Linked DNA regions of Homo sapiens. The protein of the gene in region 1 purifies or fractionates together with the protein of each later gene. This does not show direct contact. Each region holds a gene or a part of one and is shown on either strand. Other genes may lie near its edges. The genes, in order: PON1 and NDUFB6.

The links.
Region 2: the proteins of PON1 (region 1) and NDUFB6 purify together in Homo sapiens (affinity purification with mass spectrometry; one large-scale study listed by BioGRID and IntAct). This does not show direct contact.

Annotation. Positions count from the first base shown.
Region 1 is NC_000007.14:95,321,447-95,326,057, reverse strand, and holds the start of PON1 (serum paraoxonase/arylesterase 1), read left to right. Parts: upstream 1-1,525; 5' UTR 1,526-1,582; coding exon 1,583-1,656; intron 1,657-4,611. UniProt on the Homo sapiens protein: Hydrolyzes the toxic metabolites of a variety of organophosphorus insecticides. Capable of hydrolyzing a broad spectrum of organophosphate substrates and lactones, and a number of aromatic carboxylic acid esters.
Region 2 is NC_000009.12:32,566,520-32,570,336, reverse strand, and holds part of NDUFB6 (NADH dehydrogenase [ubiquinone] 1 beta subcomplex subunit 6), read left to right. Parts: intron 1-3,476; exon of another isoform or gene 3,477-3,817.

The DNA.
Region 1 (4,611 bases):
TGGTTTGTGTTCTTTTGACTCGTGTAGAATTTGTTCTTATTAAACCACCTATTGTATCCATGTTATCTAATTCAGTAGTTACTTCTCTGCCATAAGCATACTCAACTCATAGCCACATTGGACACAGATCATCATTCCCCCTCTTTTCGAATACTCTTCTCTTTTGGATTCATTGGTTCTACTTCTTAGGTAGATTCTTCTGCTCCACCTGGTGTTAACCAGGGTGGCTTAGCCAGTGGTATTCAGTTGGTGGCCAGGCTGTGGTGGCTGGGCTTGTCTAATAGCCCACTTCATTCATTTCTGCTTCCTTGGTGCCGATGGTTAAGAGGTTGGCTTCAGCTGACCACTTTCCCTCTCCATATGTTCATGGCCTTTCATGTGAATGCTCCAGTGGAGTGGTCAGGTTTTTTACATAGTAGCTCAAGGCTTAAGAGCAAGTGTTCAGAAGGAGCAGAGAGAGAGGGCAGTAGTTACAATGTGAGGCCAAAGAAGCTTCCCCCCAGAAAGCTAAAGGTGATAAGTAAAGCATGTTGGTATTGGCTGGCAATATTCCACAAGAGATGAAAGGACAGATATTGCAGAAGAGAGAAGGTATAACTGGGACCAAAAGCCTTGAGAAGGAAAGAGACATGGAGCAAATCATTCACAGTAACAGCAGACAGCAGAGAAGAGAGACATGGTTGTACAGAGGCACCTCCTTTGGGTCTTTACTCAAATGCCCCATTATCAGTGAGAACTTCTCTGACTGCTATTCTTCAGCAGAGGGTATTCCTTATCCCCTTTCTTGCTTTATGTGTTTTCTCCATAACATATGTGCATATCCATAACACACACATGCATCACCTAGAGCATTATATATGCCACAGTGACATGTTTTGCTGATTTCTCAATTGACTCCCCCCATTGGAATGAACGTAAGCTTGAGGAAGACGTTTTGTCCTGTTCTGTAGCATCTAGAACAGCGCCTGGCACATAGTAGGTACTCAATAAATGCCAGCTGCATGAGGAAATGAATGAGCTGTGTGGGGGATGTACTTGAGTGAACTCTAAAGTCAGAGTGGTGTTGAGAGAAAAATGCTTGAAATCCAGATGTTGGAAGGTGACACAGAGTAGTAGCCTGGTGAGAACAGTTAGATCTTAGGGGTTCCTACTACAGCCCTCCCTTCCGCACCTTTTTGGCTGTCACCATGATCAAGCTACTGAATCTCTCTGAGACGCAAGGACCGGGATGGCACAAAGTGAGTGCTCACCAAAGCTTGACTGTCCTTTCCCATGGCAATTTACTTCAGCTTGTTTGATTTCCCCTCCCCGACTGGACTAGGCACCTATTCTCTGTCTTCTCTCTTTACAGTTGGAAGGAGCAAAATGGGACTTTTGGCTGAAAGTGCTGAGCTCCTGCGGTGGGGGCTGACCGCAAGCCACGCCTTCTGTGCACCTGGTCGGCCCAGCTAGCTGCCGACCCGGCGGGGAGGGGCGGGGCGGGCCAATCGGCGCTGCCCCAGCAGGGCTGCGGCTGCAGGCAGGCAGAGCCTCCTAGCCCGTCGGTGTCTGCGCCCATCGATCCCTTTGTCTATCCCCGACCATGGCGAAGCTGATTGCGCTCACCCTCTTGGGGATGGGACTGGCACTCTTCAGGAACCACCAGTCTTCTTACCAGTAAGTTGGGTTGTGGTGAGGGCTGCAGCCTTCGTCCTCCTCACTCCCTGCCAGCTCCACGAGCCCCCAGAAAGTTGGGTCCAGGCTGTTAACAGAACATTTACAAGCAGGTGCTAGATGCACACTCTGCGGGGGTTTCATAAATGTTTGTCCAGCCGTCATGTGTCACTTGAAAACAAACTCTTGCTCATGGCCTGAGACATGGGATAAGGAGGCAATTGCCAGGGGTGTGAGTGCCCAGGTTGTCAGCATACACGAATTAATTTTTCATGAAGATTTGTGTGCCCTGGCTACAGATTCACTTCTCAACCTGGAAAGAAACAAACTAACCTGGCTGGGGGTTCTCCTGATATTTTGTGTATTAGAGAAAGGAGCCCCTGTCGCTTCTGCGCCTTGACTGCCTGGCCATGGCAAACCTTCCAGGCTTGAAGATTCTCAAATTGAGGCTACTGAGGGCCACAGCAAAACTGCGTGTGGACCCGAGCAGGTGGAGCTAACGTGTGCTGTGATGGTTCGCTTCAGTGGGGGCAGGCGGGGAAGAGGGAACCCTGGAGCCAGCATCTGATGTCCTGGGGTTTAGCTCTGCCCCATGAGTATGCGATTTGGGCAAATCACTTTACATCTCTAACCTTAGCTGCTTCAGTAAACTGGAAATAGTAATACACACTGCCTGCGACAGAGTAGCTATTCAATAAATGTTAGTTCCCTGCTTCCCTTTAAAGTATTTAATAAAGGGTTAAGTGCTATACAAGGGGGGTGGGGATATTTTAAGAATGTATCAAAAGTTTCATAACTTTTAACAGGAGTTCAAAGTCTACAGATCATCCTAGTCTCTAAGGCTTAGTCAACAATGCCTTATTTACTTTAAAGTAAAACCTAATAAAAATTAAATATAAAAAAATTATATGAGCTTATGGACTAATTAGAAGCTTACATTCAGAATGGGTTTTTACTATTTATTGTGGATGTTTTTCTAATTTTTTTAAGTTACAGAGTGCAGAAAAAAAGTAAGAAGCAGTTGGTATTCTTGGCTTTTAAATCATGTAAAAATTACAGTTTGTGAGTTTTTATTAATCACAGTGCTGGTGGCTGCCAAAGGAGATTATAGGTATAGATAAAAATATATAGATAAAGGATGGGTTGCTGAGCCTCCTGGAGTGACCCAGACAGAGGAAGGAAGGGAAATTTTACCCACTGTTGGAAACCCCTAAAACCTAGCTACTCAACTGGGTCTGGGGACCAGATGCCTGAGCATCACCTAGGGGCTCCCTGTACAGGCAGAATCTCAAGCCCTACCCCACACTATTGAATCAGAACCAGCGTCATGGAACAAACTCCCTGGGGGATTAGAGATCATGAATCTGCCCCAGGGAGAGAAGGCAAGAGATGATATCATGAGGCCTGCATCAGGAGCAAGCCAAATCCCCAGGATAGATGCATCCTTTTTTCTTCAGACTTGGAGTGTATGTGTGTGCGGCTCACAGGAAGCTATATATGCCTGGGCTGGAGGGAACTTAAGGAAGCACACAAGGGATGCCTCAAGAGATTTCTGAGTTTCCCAGGTGGGAGCAGTACAGAGAAAAGAACTGAGAGAGTTCCCCTAGACCACGAGTCTCCCACCCACGAGTCTCCCACCTTTGTAGTCGGCTGTATGTGCCGCACAAGTCCAGGGAATGCCTTGGATGATGGTAGAAACAGCTCCCCTCCCCTACCCCAACTTGGGCTATGGAATGTTGCAGCATCTGTATGGCAACTTCCTTGTCCCTACATTGCTAATTGCAATACGTGAGTCCACTGAGTTTCCCTTCTCAGAAGGAAACCACAAAGCTAACGTTGGGCCTCTCGATGCATTTCTGCCATTCCATGCTTACTGTAGGCAACACACAGTTGTGGGAAGAGAGTAGTTGTGGATTCCTGATGACCTGGGTTAGATATCATTTCTGCAACTTTCAAGTTATTTTACCACTTTATTCCAGAAAAGTTCCAGCCAGTTTCTCCACCCGAAAATTAGGGGATAATAATACATATTACAGCATATATATATATATATACACACACACACACACACACATACATATATTTATATTTATATAAAACATATAAATAAAACTAAGTATATATATATATATAAAAATCAGGCATATAGCAGATGTCCTGTAAACGTTAGCTTTTATAGCTGTCATATGTGATCTCAAAAATATAGAGTGATACTTGAATATGTATTATAATCATACTTCATTGAAAGTCTGAGATAAGGACAAATAATCCTCCAACCCTCCAGTCTCCCCTATGAATGCAACCAACACCATCTTCTCAGTCTGATGTACTTGCCTAGTATCTCCACAAAACACTTCAGTGGACATCTGCAGAGTACCTTCTCTTTGCAAACGTTGTGTTTCTGCTGGAGGTTATAGGAATGAATAGGTTGCAGTATTCACTCACCAATTTTAAAGTCTACTGGGAGCAAAAGAACAAAAACTGACAGCTGTGAAACTGACAACTATGACAACTATGGTAAGAAAGTTGACAGATGTATATGTGAAGGTTCCTGAGGGTAAACTAAGGAGTTATTAATCCCAATGCAGAAGACTGGAGAAGCTACAAAGCATCATGAGTAGGGGTCTTTCCAGTGGGTAATGGGCTAAAGAGCATTCTAGGTGAAGGGAAAAGTGTGAGCAAATAAAAAGAGGTATGAAAGAAATACAGGGAAGAGTCCTTAGTATCATGACACTTGATTTCAAATCCCAACTCTACCCTCTTAAATAAGCAACCACATGCAATTTACTCAGCCTCTCAGTGCCTCCATTTCCTTACCTACAAAACAGGGTAAATATTCATCTTTTTCTCAAAGGTGGCTAAAAAGATTAAATGAGGAAGTATGTGTGAGAGCCCTTATTGGAGCTTGGCACATAGTAGGCCATGAAAAGCAATTTGAATGAATGAGGCGTGTGTAGT
Region 2 (3,817 bases), on another chromosome or scaffold:
AGTGTTGGAGCACAAAAGAGTGAGGAGGGCATTCGTATACCAAGAGAGGGGTGTTAGATCCTCAGTGGGTTGCAGGGGAGGAGGGTGAGCACATCTGTTTGGGGAGCAACAGTGGCAACAGCCTAGTATAGGATATTGGTACCTGAGCAGAGGGAGGAGGACATCTGGAAGAAGGATGGTATGAGGCAGTGAGGCAAGTGGTAACTCAGAGCAAGATGTCAGAACCTGAATGAGGTGAGGCAGGTATTAATGCTGGGATGTGGTTGTGGTGACAGGAGATGGGTTATATATAGGGAGATTGGCCAAATACAGGCATACCTCAGAGATATTTCAGAATTGGTTGTAGAACAATGCAGTTCCAAAAGTATTCTTTGGTTCTAGACCACCAAAACGAGTTACACAAATTTTTTGGCTTCCTAGTGCATATAAAAGTTATGTTTACACTGTGCTGTGGTATAAGTGTGTAATAGCAGTGTAAAAGAACGATGTATATGCTTTAATTTAAAAATACTTTATTGCTGGGCCATGTGTGGTGGCTCCCACCTGTAGCCCTAGCACTTTGAGAGGCCAAGGTAGGAAGATTGCTTGAGGCCAGAAGTTCGACCGGCTTGGGCAACATAGTGAGACTCCATGTTTCCAAAAAAAAAGAAAAAAAAATAGCTGGATGTAGTGGTCCACACCTATAATCCCAGCTACTCAAGAGGCTGAGATGGGAGGATTGCTTGAGCCCAGGATTTCGAGGCTGCAATAAACTGTGATTGTGCCACTGCACTCTGGCCTAGGTGCCAGGTTGATATGCTGCCTTAAAAAGAAAAAACAGGCCGGGCACGGTGGCTCATGCCTGTAATCCCAGCACTTTGGGAGGTTGAGGCGGGTGGATCACGAGGTCAAGAGATCGAGACCATCCTGGCCAACATGGTGAAACCCCACCTCTACTAAAAATAAAAAAAATGAGCTGGGCATGGTGGCGGGCGCCTGTAGTCCCAGCTATTCGGGAGGTTGAGGCAGAAGAATCACTTGAACCTGGGAGGTGGAGGTTGCAGTGAGCTGAGATCGTGCCACTGCACTCCAGCCTGGCGACAGAGTGAGACTCCGTCTCAAAAAAGAAAAAGAAAAAAACAAAAACTTCATTGCTAAAAAATGCTAATGATCATTTGAGCCTTAGTGACTATGTATGATCTTTTTGCTAATGGAAGGTCTTGCTTCCATGTTGATAACTGCTGACTGATCAGGGTGATGGTTGTTGCAGGCTGGAGTGGCTGTGGCAATTTCTTAATATAAGATAGCAGGCGGGGCGCGGTGTCCCACGCCTGTAATCCTACCACTTTGGGAGGCCAAGGCAGGTGGATCACGAGGTCAGGAGTTCAAGACCACCCTGGCCAAGATGGTGAGACCCTGTCTCTACTAAAAATACAAAAATTAGCTGGGAGTAGTAGTGGGTGCCTGTAATCCCAGCTACTCGGGAGGCTGAGGCAGGAGAATCGCTTGAACCCGGGAGGCGGAGGTTGCAGTGAGCTGAGATTGCACCACTGCACTCCATCCTGGGCAACAGAGCAAGACTCCATCTCAAAAAAAAAAAAAAAAAAAATATATATATATATATATGCACACACACACACATATACATACACATATATATACATACGTATATACATATATAAGTATATGTACATATATACATATATATATATGTATATGAGACAACACTGAGGTTTGCCACATCGATTGACTTTTATTTTCACGAAAGATATCTCTGTAGCATGAGATGCTGTTTGATAGCATAGCATTTTACCCACAGTATAACTTTCAAAATTGGAGTCAGGCCTTTCAAACCATGCCGCTGCTTTATCAACTAAGATTATGTAATATTCGAAATTCTTTGTTGTCATTTCAACAATGTTCATAGCATCTTCACCAGGAGCAGATTCCATCTCAAGAAACCACTTTGTTTGCTCATCCAAAAGGAGCACCTTCTCATCTATCAAGCTTTATCATGTGATGGAGGCACTTCAGTCACATGGTCAGGCTCCACTTCTAATTCTAGTTCTTTTGCTATATCCACTACATCGAGTTCCTTCCTGCACCGAATTCCTGAACCCCTCAAAGTCATCCACGAGAGTTGAAATCAACTTCTTCCAAACTCTTGTTCATGTTGATACTTTGACCTCCTCCTGTTAATCACAAATCTTCTTAATGGCATATAGGATAGTAAATTCTTTCCCAGAAGATTTTCCATTTTCTTTGCCTAGATCCATCAGAGGAATCACTATCTTTTTTTTTTCTTTTTGAGACAAGGTCTTGCTGTGTCACTCAGGCTGGAGTGCGGTGGTGCCATCTCGACTCACTGCAACCTCCGCCTCCCAGGTTCAAGCAATTCTCCTGCCTCAGCCTACCAAGTAGCTTTTGATATGAAGTGAGAAACATGCAGCTCTTTCTTTTATTTGAACAGTTAGAGGTCATTGTAGTGTTATTAAATTGGCCTAATTTCAGTATTGTTGTGTCTCAGGGAATAGGACAGTCCAAGGAGAGGGAGAGAGGTGGGGAATGGCCAGTTGGTGGAACAGTCACAACACACAACATTTACTTATTAAATTCACTATCTTATATGGGTGTGATTTGTGTTGCCCCTAAAATTTGTAGTAGTAACATCAAAAATCACTGAGTGCAGATTACCATAACAAATATTAATATAACAATAGTGACAAAGTTTGAGGCCAGGCATGGTGGCTCACACCTGTAATCCCAGCACTTTGGGAGGCTGAGGTGGGCAAATCAGCTGAGGTGAGGAGTTCAAGATCAGCCTGGCCAACATGGTGAAACCCCATCTCTACTAAAATACAAAAATTAGCCGGGCTTGGTGCACGTCTGTAGTCCCAGCTACTGGGGAGGCTGAGGCAGGAGAATCCCTTGAACCTGGGAGAAGGAGGTTGCAGTGAGCCAAGATCGCACCACTGCCTGGGTGACAGAGCGAGACTCCATCTGAAAAAGTTTGAAATATTGGGAGAATTACCAAAATATGGCACAGAGACGTGAAGTGAACACATGCTGTTAGCAAAATGGCACTGAGTTTCTGGGATCGGTTCCCGGCCCATGCCAGTTTTGCAGAGCACACCTGGTGTAGAGCCCTGTGACTGGGGCCTGGACCAGCTTGAGCAGCTGGCCAGCGGGTGCCACTGCCTGCGGGGCCCAGAGGCGTTGAGTACATCTGCAGTGCTCCAGAAGCACAAGACTGTGAAGCTGCGGGCCCTGTGCAGCCCGAGGAAGTTTGGCATGGCGGGCAGGAGCTGCCGGGAGATGCTGCGCAAGGGCTACCTCTGCTTCTAGCTCCCTCGTACGAGGATGGCATGGAGCTGACCGAAGCGTCCTCGACGATGCCGAGCTGGTGCTGCTCACCTCACGCCAGGCCTGGCAGGGCTATGTGAGTGACATCGGGTGCTTCCTCAGTGCTTTTCGCCAGCCGCACGCGTGGCTCATCCAGGCCGCCCGGCAGCTACTGTGTGATGAGCAGGCCCCCACAGAGGCAGAGACTGCTGGCCGACCTCCTGTACAACGTCAGCCAGAACGTCGCAGCCGACACCCGGGCTGAGGACCCGCTGTGGTTTGAAGGCTTGGAGTCCCGATTTTGGAATAAGTCTGGCTATCTGAGATACAGCTGTGAAAGCCGGATCCGGAGTTACCTGAGAGAGGTGAGCTCCTGCTCCTCCATGGTGGGTGCAGAGGCTCAGGAGGAATTCCTGCGGGTCCTCCGCTCCATGTGCCAGAAGCTCCAGTCTGTGCAGTACGACGGCAGCTATACAACAGAGGAGCCAAGGGTGGC